Homo sapiens: one gene and its partner. The protein of the gene in region 1 interacts with the protein of each later gene in a pairwise test. Each region holds a gene or a part of one and is shown on either strand. Other genes may lie near its edges.

The links. Proteins that work in one complex are often made in the same cells at the same time.
Region 2: the proteins of SAFB (region 1) and CHD1 interact in a two-hybrid assay, tested with the Homo sapiens proteins (one study listed by BioGRID).

What each region holds. Positions count from the first base shown.
Region 1 is NC_000019.10:5,625,983-5,629,734, reverse strand, and holds part of SAFB (scaffold attachment factor B1), read right to left. Parts: intron 3,331-3,752; coding exon 3,246-3,330; intron 1-3,245. UniProt on the Homo sapiens protein: Binds to scaffold/matrix attachment region (S/MAR) DNA and forms a molecular assembly point to allow the formation of a 'transcriptosomal' complex (consisting of SR proteins and RNA polymerase II) coupling transcription and RNA processing.
Region 2 is NC_000005.10:98,894,408-98,898,159, reverse strand, and holds part of CHD1 (chromodomain-helicase-DNA-binding protein 1), read left to right. Parts: intron 1-839; coding exon 840-967; intron 968-1,717; coding exon 1,718-1,934; intron 1,935-3,473; coding exon 3,474-3,563; intron 3,564-3,752. UniProt on the Homo sapiens protein: ATP-dependent chromatin-remodeling factor which functions as substrate recognition component of the transcription regulatory histone acetylation (HAT) complex SAGA. Regulates polymerase II transcription.

The DNA.
Region 1 (3,752 bases):
CATATCCTTGGAGTCTAGAATTCTCCTTTCACTAAGTTATCAAAAATTATATTACTTTGACCACACAAAGGTATTTATCTCTGGTTCGTGCAAACACTGAATGTTGGAAGTACCGAGTGATAATTGGAAATAAAAATCTCCAAACGTCTAGTAATAAAAAGACTGATGGGCTAAATTGTGTATTTATTCATACAGAAGATTATTAGCCTGTTAAAAAACAGTGAGATTTTGTATAGCAAGATCACGGGTTTTTTTAATGAAAAAAATATGCATACAGGTGTGTGCACATACCTATATATTTACTTTTTTCCCCCTCTCACTCTGTGCCCAAGCTGGAGTGTAGAAGCACACTCATGGCTCACCGCAGCCTTGACCTCTTGGGCTTAAGCAATCCTCCTACCTTGGCCTCCCTAGTAGCTGGGACTACAGGTGTGTGCCACCATGCCCAGCTCATTGACTTTTATTTAACTTTTTGTTTTTCTAGACACAGGGTCTTGCTCTGTAACCCAGGCCTAAGTTTACTTTTAAACATTGTACATACACACACAGTCTGGAGAAGTATGCCTAACTTTTAGTAGTGGGCTGTCCCGACTGTGAACAACTTCTGCTTTTTACTCCCATGCACGTATTTTAAAACCTGCCGGGCGCAGTGGCTCACAACTGAAATCTAAACGTTTTGTGGGGCTGAGGTGAAAGCACTGCTTGAGGCCAGGAGTTCAAGGCTGCAGCGAACTATGACTGCGCGACTACCCTCCATCTGAGTGACAGAGTGAGAACCCACCTCAAAAACAAAACAAAAACAGCAACAAAAGCCTGTAGTACAAGTATTTGCTTTTATCAGAAGAAAAAGGAAAACAAAAAAGGAGATCCACAGGCTCTGTTTTTTGCTTTTATTATTTCTTTCTCCATTGATTTTCCAGGACTCTTTGCCTTGGCAGAAGTATACTTGAGTAAAGGCAAAAACACGCAATGTATCATGAGCCACAGAAGTGACTTCATTCTGCTGTTCTCCCAGCACTTACCCCAAACACTGTGGCTGACACTGGGGCCTGACTCTCAGATATTTAAACCCAGTACTTCACCACCAAGTATTAGTTATTATCTCATTTAGTTTTGGGCCCTGAGAACCAGGCCTTCAATTACAGGTTGGGCAACCCTATCTGAAACTGAAACCTTCTGAGCACTGACATATTGCCACAAGTAGAAAATTCCACACCTGATGTGTGGAATTAGTGAAAGTTTTGTTTCATGCACAAAATTATAAAAAATATGGTATTAAATTATCTTCAGGTGTATAAGAAACAAATTTCTTGTTTAGATTTGGGCCCCAATCCCAAGATTATCTCATTATGCGTACGAAAATACCGCACAAAATCCAAAAAATGAAACCCTTCTGGTCCCAAGCATTTCAGATAGGGAAAACTCTACATGAACCAAGAGAACATTCGGTCTACAAGCCCAGCTTCAGCTGATTCTTTTTTTTAGGGGGATGGAGTCTTGCGGTCGCCCAGGCTGGAGTGCAGTGGTGCGATCTGGGCTCAGTGCAACCTCCACCTCCTGGGTTCAGGCAATTCTCCTGCCTCAGCCTCCTGAGTAGCTGGGATTACAGGAGCCCGCCACCACACCTGGCTAATTTTTATATTTTTAGTAGAGACGGGGTTTCATCATGTTGGCCAGGCTGGTCTCGAACTCCTGACCTCAGGTGACCAGTCCGCCTCAACCTCCCAAAGTGCTGGCATTACAGGTGTGAGCCACGGCGCCCTGCCTCAGCTGATTCTTTCTTAAGCCAATAGTTGAGTGTTACCAAGTTAAACCATTGAAGGGGAAAGAAAGATAAACAAGACACAGCCCTAGTCCTCATCAATCTGCTCTTGACAGAAGGCAAGATGACATAAATATTAAACCAAGGGGTAAGGAACTATGCCACGGGAGGACAGAGGACCCAAGGAGACGAGTTGCTATTGGTGGGATGGATCAGTTGTCTTTTGAGGAACTAGGTCTCTAAGGCAGACAGATGGGGAAGGGTGGGCGGAGCGAAGTCACAGAGAACCAGGAGAGTAAATCACGTGTTTGGGGCCTGACTAAAGCACAGGGTGTGGGGGATGGGCAAGAGAGATTTCGGTAAGATGGTGAGAGTCATGTCATGTGGAATGTGACTTTTACTGTATAAGCTGCTTTTAAAAGAAATGTTAAAGTGACAATTCTGTTTTTGCCAAGTGCTGTTTATAAGGGATGTTATTTTCTCCAAGTCCAAGCAATAGGAGGCTCAGGCAGTCCTACTTTTTGGACTCCATGTTGGAGTTCAGTGGTGCCATGATAGCTCAGTGCAACCCTGAACTCCTGGGTTCAAATGATCCTCCCGCCTTAGCCTCCCAAGTAGCTAGGAAAACAGGCGTGCCTCGACGCCTAGGTACTTTTTTTTTTTGGCAGTGGATAGAGGCAGCCCAGGCTGGTCTCAAACTCCTAGACTGAAACCATTCTCCTGCCTTGGGTTCCCAAAGTGTTGGGATTACAGGTGAGAGACACTGTGCCCCGCCCCCACCCCCCTTTTTTTTAAGAGAGACTGGGTCTTGCTCTGTCACCCAGGCTGGAGTGCAGTGGTGCAATCATTAGGTCATTGCAGGCTTGAGCTCCTGGGCTCAAGTGATCCCCCTCCTAAAACTCCCAAGTAGCTGGGATCACAGGTGCATGCCATCATGCCTGGCTAATTTCTTTTTGGTGGGGATGGGGGTCTCCCTATGTTGCCCAAGCTGATCTCAACCTCCTGGGGTCAAGTAATCCTTCCGGTTCAGCCTCCCAAGCAGCTGGGACCACAGATGCATGCCACCACACCGGGCCTTTAAAAGTTTTTTTGTAGAGCTGGGTTTTGCTATGTTGCCCAGGCTGGTCTTGAACTCCCAGGCTCATGTGATCCTCCTACCACAGCCCCGAGTCGCCTGGAATTACAGGCACACGCCACTGTGACTGACTCCCAAAAGACTCCTTATTTAAGGACCGCTGACAATCTACAGAGGAAAATGAATAAAGGACAAATACTCCTTCCATCCTCCATTGGAATTCCCAGATACCAAGAAAACAAAACACAGTAGAGAGATCTTGAAAGAAAATGCAAAGCTTCGCTGAAGGCTCCCAGTTCAGAGTGGTTCACAAGTCCAACACACAGACAAGTAAACGAGGCACATTAGCAATGTATTCGTTTTGAAGAAAGCACTTAACATGAAACTTGCTTATGAAATCCTCCATACCTTTGCTAGACCTCTTTGATGTTTTCTTGTTTCCCTCGGAGGTAATTTCAATTTCGTCAGGATTACCACCTTCATCTTCAATTGCCTAAAAAGAAGGGAAAAGTAAAGTTGATCCAAAAAGTCAGCTCACACACTGCTTTCAGAGAGCTCTCAGGTGACAAGGAAACTGTATTTTTAAGATCAAAAAGCTGCTGCCGCCCTCACCACCCAGGACCTGTGGCCCATCCACTCATCTGTTATCTCGCTCTACACTGGAGACCGACTGACGCCACCAGTTCTTAGCTGGGTGGTCCCAGGCAGGTTTACTTAGGTGCTCAGTTTTTGCTTCTTCCTCTGGAACATGCGGCTAATAATAATACAGTACTTACCCTGGAAGGCTGTTGTGAGGACTCTACTAGCCATGAAAAGGAAGCACTCAACAAACAGTAGGCTTATCTGGTTCATCTCCTTCCTAAGCCCAGAAGAACTCAAAAAGGGAAAGGCACACTCTCCATTTCCCCTGACTTT
Region 2 (3,752 bases), on another chromosome or scaffold:
AGACTAAGGGAGAATATTTCTTGGTTAATAGGTCTTACAGGAAGTGAACTTCTGCAATTGCTGTGTGTTTTTTAGTTTTAGTTTTATAATTTTTTATTTCAAACTTTCTCTTAAAAAAATTGTAAATGATGTTTTCGTCAATGTATCTTCTTAAGTGTTGTCTTTTATCTTGTTGAGCATCACTATGTCAGAAAGATGAGTTGGTTATGGTGATTGTCAGGAAGGGTTGGGAGAATAAACAGAAAAAAACCCTTGGAAACTAGAGATATGCTCAATTTTAAAGATAGTGGATATTTTCTTAGAAGGTAGAGAAAAAGGAGAGTGATATAGGAAAGTATCCAGAACTACCTTGCACAATACTTTCTGCATCCTTGTAACTTACCCAGAGTTACTAGTGATGTGTTGAGATCTATGGACTACTAGACTTTCTTTCCTTATTACAAGAATTACATTCTTCATAGGGATAACTTGGAATTCAGAAATTGAACGGTAAGCTAAGCCAGTTTTATGGTTTGTAGCTTAAGGCTGGAGTGATGGTTTTGAACAATTTAACGTAGGTTTTGCTTGTGAAATACATGAGACTCATATTTTGGCAGGAAGTTAATTTTCTCTATACATTTTTGTTTAAAAAAGAAGGCAAAATATTTCACTGTTCATTTTTGTAGAGTAGTAGAAAACAGTATTGACTGAATCCTCAGGTACATTTTGAGTAATGGAATCTCTGAGCTTGATGATTAGAGATGAAATTTAAGAATTTATGGTAAAGCTGAGGCTTTCATCTTTTAGTATAATTTCTTATATTTAATAACTCTACATAATAATGTTTATTTCTACTAAAGGTATTAAAACAAAGGCCAAGGTTTGTAGCCCTGAAGAAGCAGCCATCCTATATTGGAGGACATGAGGGCTTAGAATTAAGAGATTATCAACTGAATGGTTTAAATTGGCTTGCTCATTCTTGGTGCAAGTAAGTATATTTTGAATCATCTATTTAATTTGACAGAGTAAGAATTTACCAATACAGGATTCAGAAAAGATTTCCATTTACATAAAGAATAAGACTCTTTGGCAGTTTATATGCTAGTCTTTGTATTTCCTAGTTTGTATAAACAATACTTACTACATACTAGGAAGAAAATCCAGTGGAGTTGGAGTTTAACTTGATTGTTGCCTTTTTAAAATATGTTTTTATTCAGTTTAAAAATCAAAATGCATATCTGTTCTCATCCCATGCTATTCCTGGAATATTTCTCTTTTTCCTAGTTATTTTAATATCCATTTACTCTTCTACATTTTTTTTCTATCTTCTATGGCCCCCACTCTACTTTTGTGAATCTCGGTTGCAATTTAGCTATAGTTTTTTTTTTTAATCTGTGTTCTTCCTATATACTTTTTACTTATTTAATATATCTGGACTCTACTACTAGTAGATGAATTGCATTATTGGCTTCATAATTGATTAAACATAATACTATTAATCTTTAAGCCTCTTCTGGCCCAAAACGGTCATCTCCTTTTACTTTTCTTACAGCATTAGTGATTAAGTCTTTAGCCAGATACCTTTACATTTATTATTTGTAGTTAATAAAAGTGGTATATTCTATATAATACCTATCAATTTTATTTAACTTCATAAAAACATATACACATGATGTAAAAAGGTTTCTTTGTATATTTGAATATTTCCTTGCATGCTAATTTTTTTTTAACTTTGTAGAGGAAATAGTTGCATACTCGCTGATGAAATGGGCCTTGGAAAAACAATACAGACGATCTCATTTCTGAATTATTTGTTTCATGAACATCAATTATATGGACCTTTTTTATTGGTAGTACCGCTCTCCACTCTTACTTCCTGGCAAAGGGAAATTCAGACTTGGGCTTCTCAAATGAATGCTGTGGTTTATTTAGGTGACATTAACAGCAGAAACATGGTAAGTTGTTTCCCTGTAAATGTAGAAATCAAAATGTACTTGTCTTTGAGATCAAGTGTTTTTGTTGTTTTGAGATGGGGTTTCACTCTGTCTCCCAGGCTGGAGTGCAGTGGTATGATCTTGGCTCACTGCAACTGGGACCACAGGAGCACGCCACCACTCCTGGCTAATTTTTTATATTTTTTAGTGGAGACAGGGTTTTACTGTGTTGCCAGGCTGGTCTTGAACTGAGCTCAAGTGATCTGCCTCCCTTGGCCTCCCAAAGTGCTGAGATTACAGGCATGAACCACCGTTCTTGGCCTAACAAGGATGAGAGGTTTTGTTTTGTTTTGGTCTGTATAACAGTCTTTGTTTCTGGTATAGAACTTGCCACAAATAAGTTCTCAGTACATGTTTAATTGACTGTAACAAAGTCAGTTTTGGTTTAGTGTTACTTAGTATATATATTTGACTGTTTTTTTGGTGGGTTTTTTTTTTTTTGTTTTCACTCTGTCATCCAGACTGGAGTACAGTGGTGTGATCTCGGCTCATTGCAACCTCCACCTCCCAGGTTCAAGTGATTCTTCTGCCTCACCCTTCCAAGTAGCTGGCATTACAAGCGCCTGCCACCAGGCCCGGCTAATTTTCATATTTTTAGTAGAGATGGGGTTTCACTATGTTGCCCAGGCTGGTCTCAAACTCCTGACCTCAAGTGATCCACCTGCCTTGGCCTCCCAAAGTGCTGGGATTTACAGGCGTGAGCCACCATACCAGCCTATTTTACATTTTTAATGGAAAATTTCAAATATGCATGAGAACAGACAGAAGAATGTAATAAACACTCATGTTCTTAAGTTTCACAAATTTACTGCTAGTTTTGTTTTGTCTATACCTCTACACACGACTTTCCTAGTTACTGTGAAGCAAACCCCAGACATCATATTTCATCCATAAACATTACATTATTAAATGAATTAATCACTTATGTTTTCTTAAATAAGACCTTTTCGTTTGTGAAAGATGTGCTTTAAAATTGTGTTTACTTCGTTTTTTAAGAAATGCTGTGGTATTTATGTTTTATTTATAAGATTTACATAGCATTTTGGACTATATAAAGAATAACTCTGGCCGGGCATGCCGGCTCATGCCTGTAATCCCAGCGCTTTGGGAGGCCAAGGTAGGTGGATCATCTGAGGCTGGGAGTTCGAGACCAGTCTGACCAACATGGAGATACCCTGTCTCTACTAAAAATACAAAATTAGCTGGGCGTGGTGGTGCATTCCTGTAATCCTAGCTACTCGGGAGGCTGAGGCAGGAGGATCACTTGAACCCGGGAGGTGGAGGTTGTGGTGAGCCGAGATCACGCCATTGCACTCCACCCTGGACAACAAGAGCAAAACTCTGTCTCAAAAAAAAAAAACCACAAAAACTCTTTTATTACATAAACATATATTAATAGTTACTTACATATTTGAATGGATTTTAATTTTTAGATATGTAAGTAAAAGTATAATTTGCTTGATGTTTGTCTTAAAAATTGTCCTTCAAATTTCTTAATAGATAAGAACTCATGAATGGACGCATCATCAGACCAAACGGTTAAAATTTAATATATTGTTAACAACTTATGAAATTTTATTAAAAGATAAGGTATGTATTTATTTCTCACGTGTTTTGGTCTCTTGTATATCAGTTTTTTCTTTATCATATGCTGTGGACAAGATGAGAGAATAGCCTAAATCGTGAGTCAGCAAGCTATAGCCTGTGGTCTTATTTTTTTAATGGTGCTTGAACTAAGAATGGTTTTTACCTTTTTGAAAGGTTACATTTAAAGGGTCT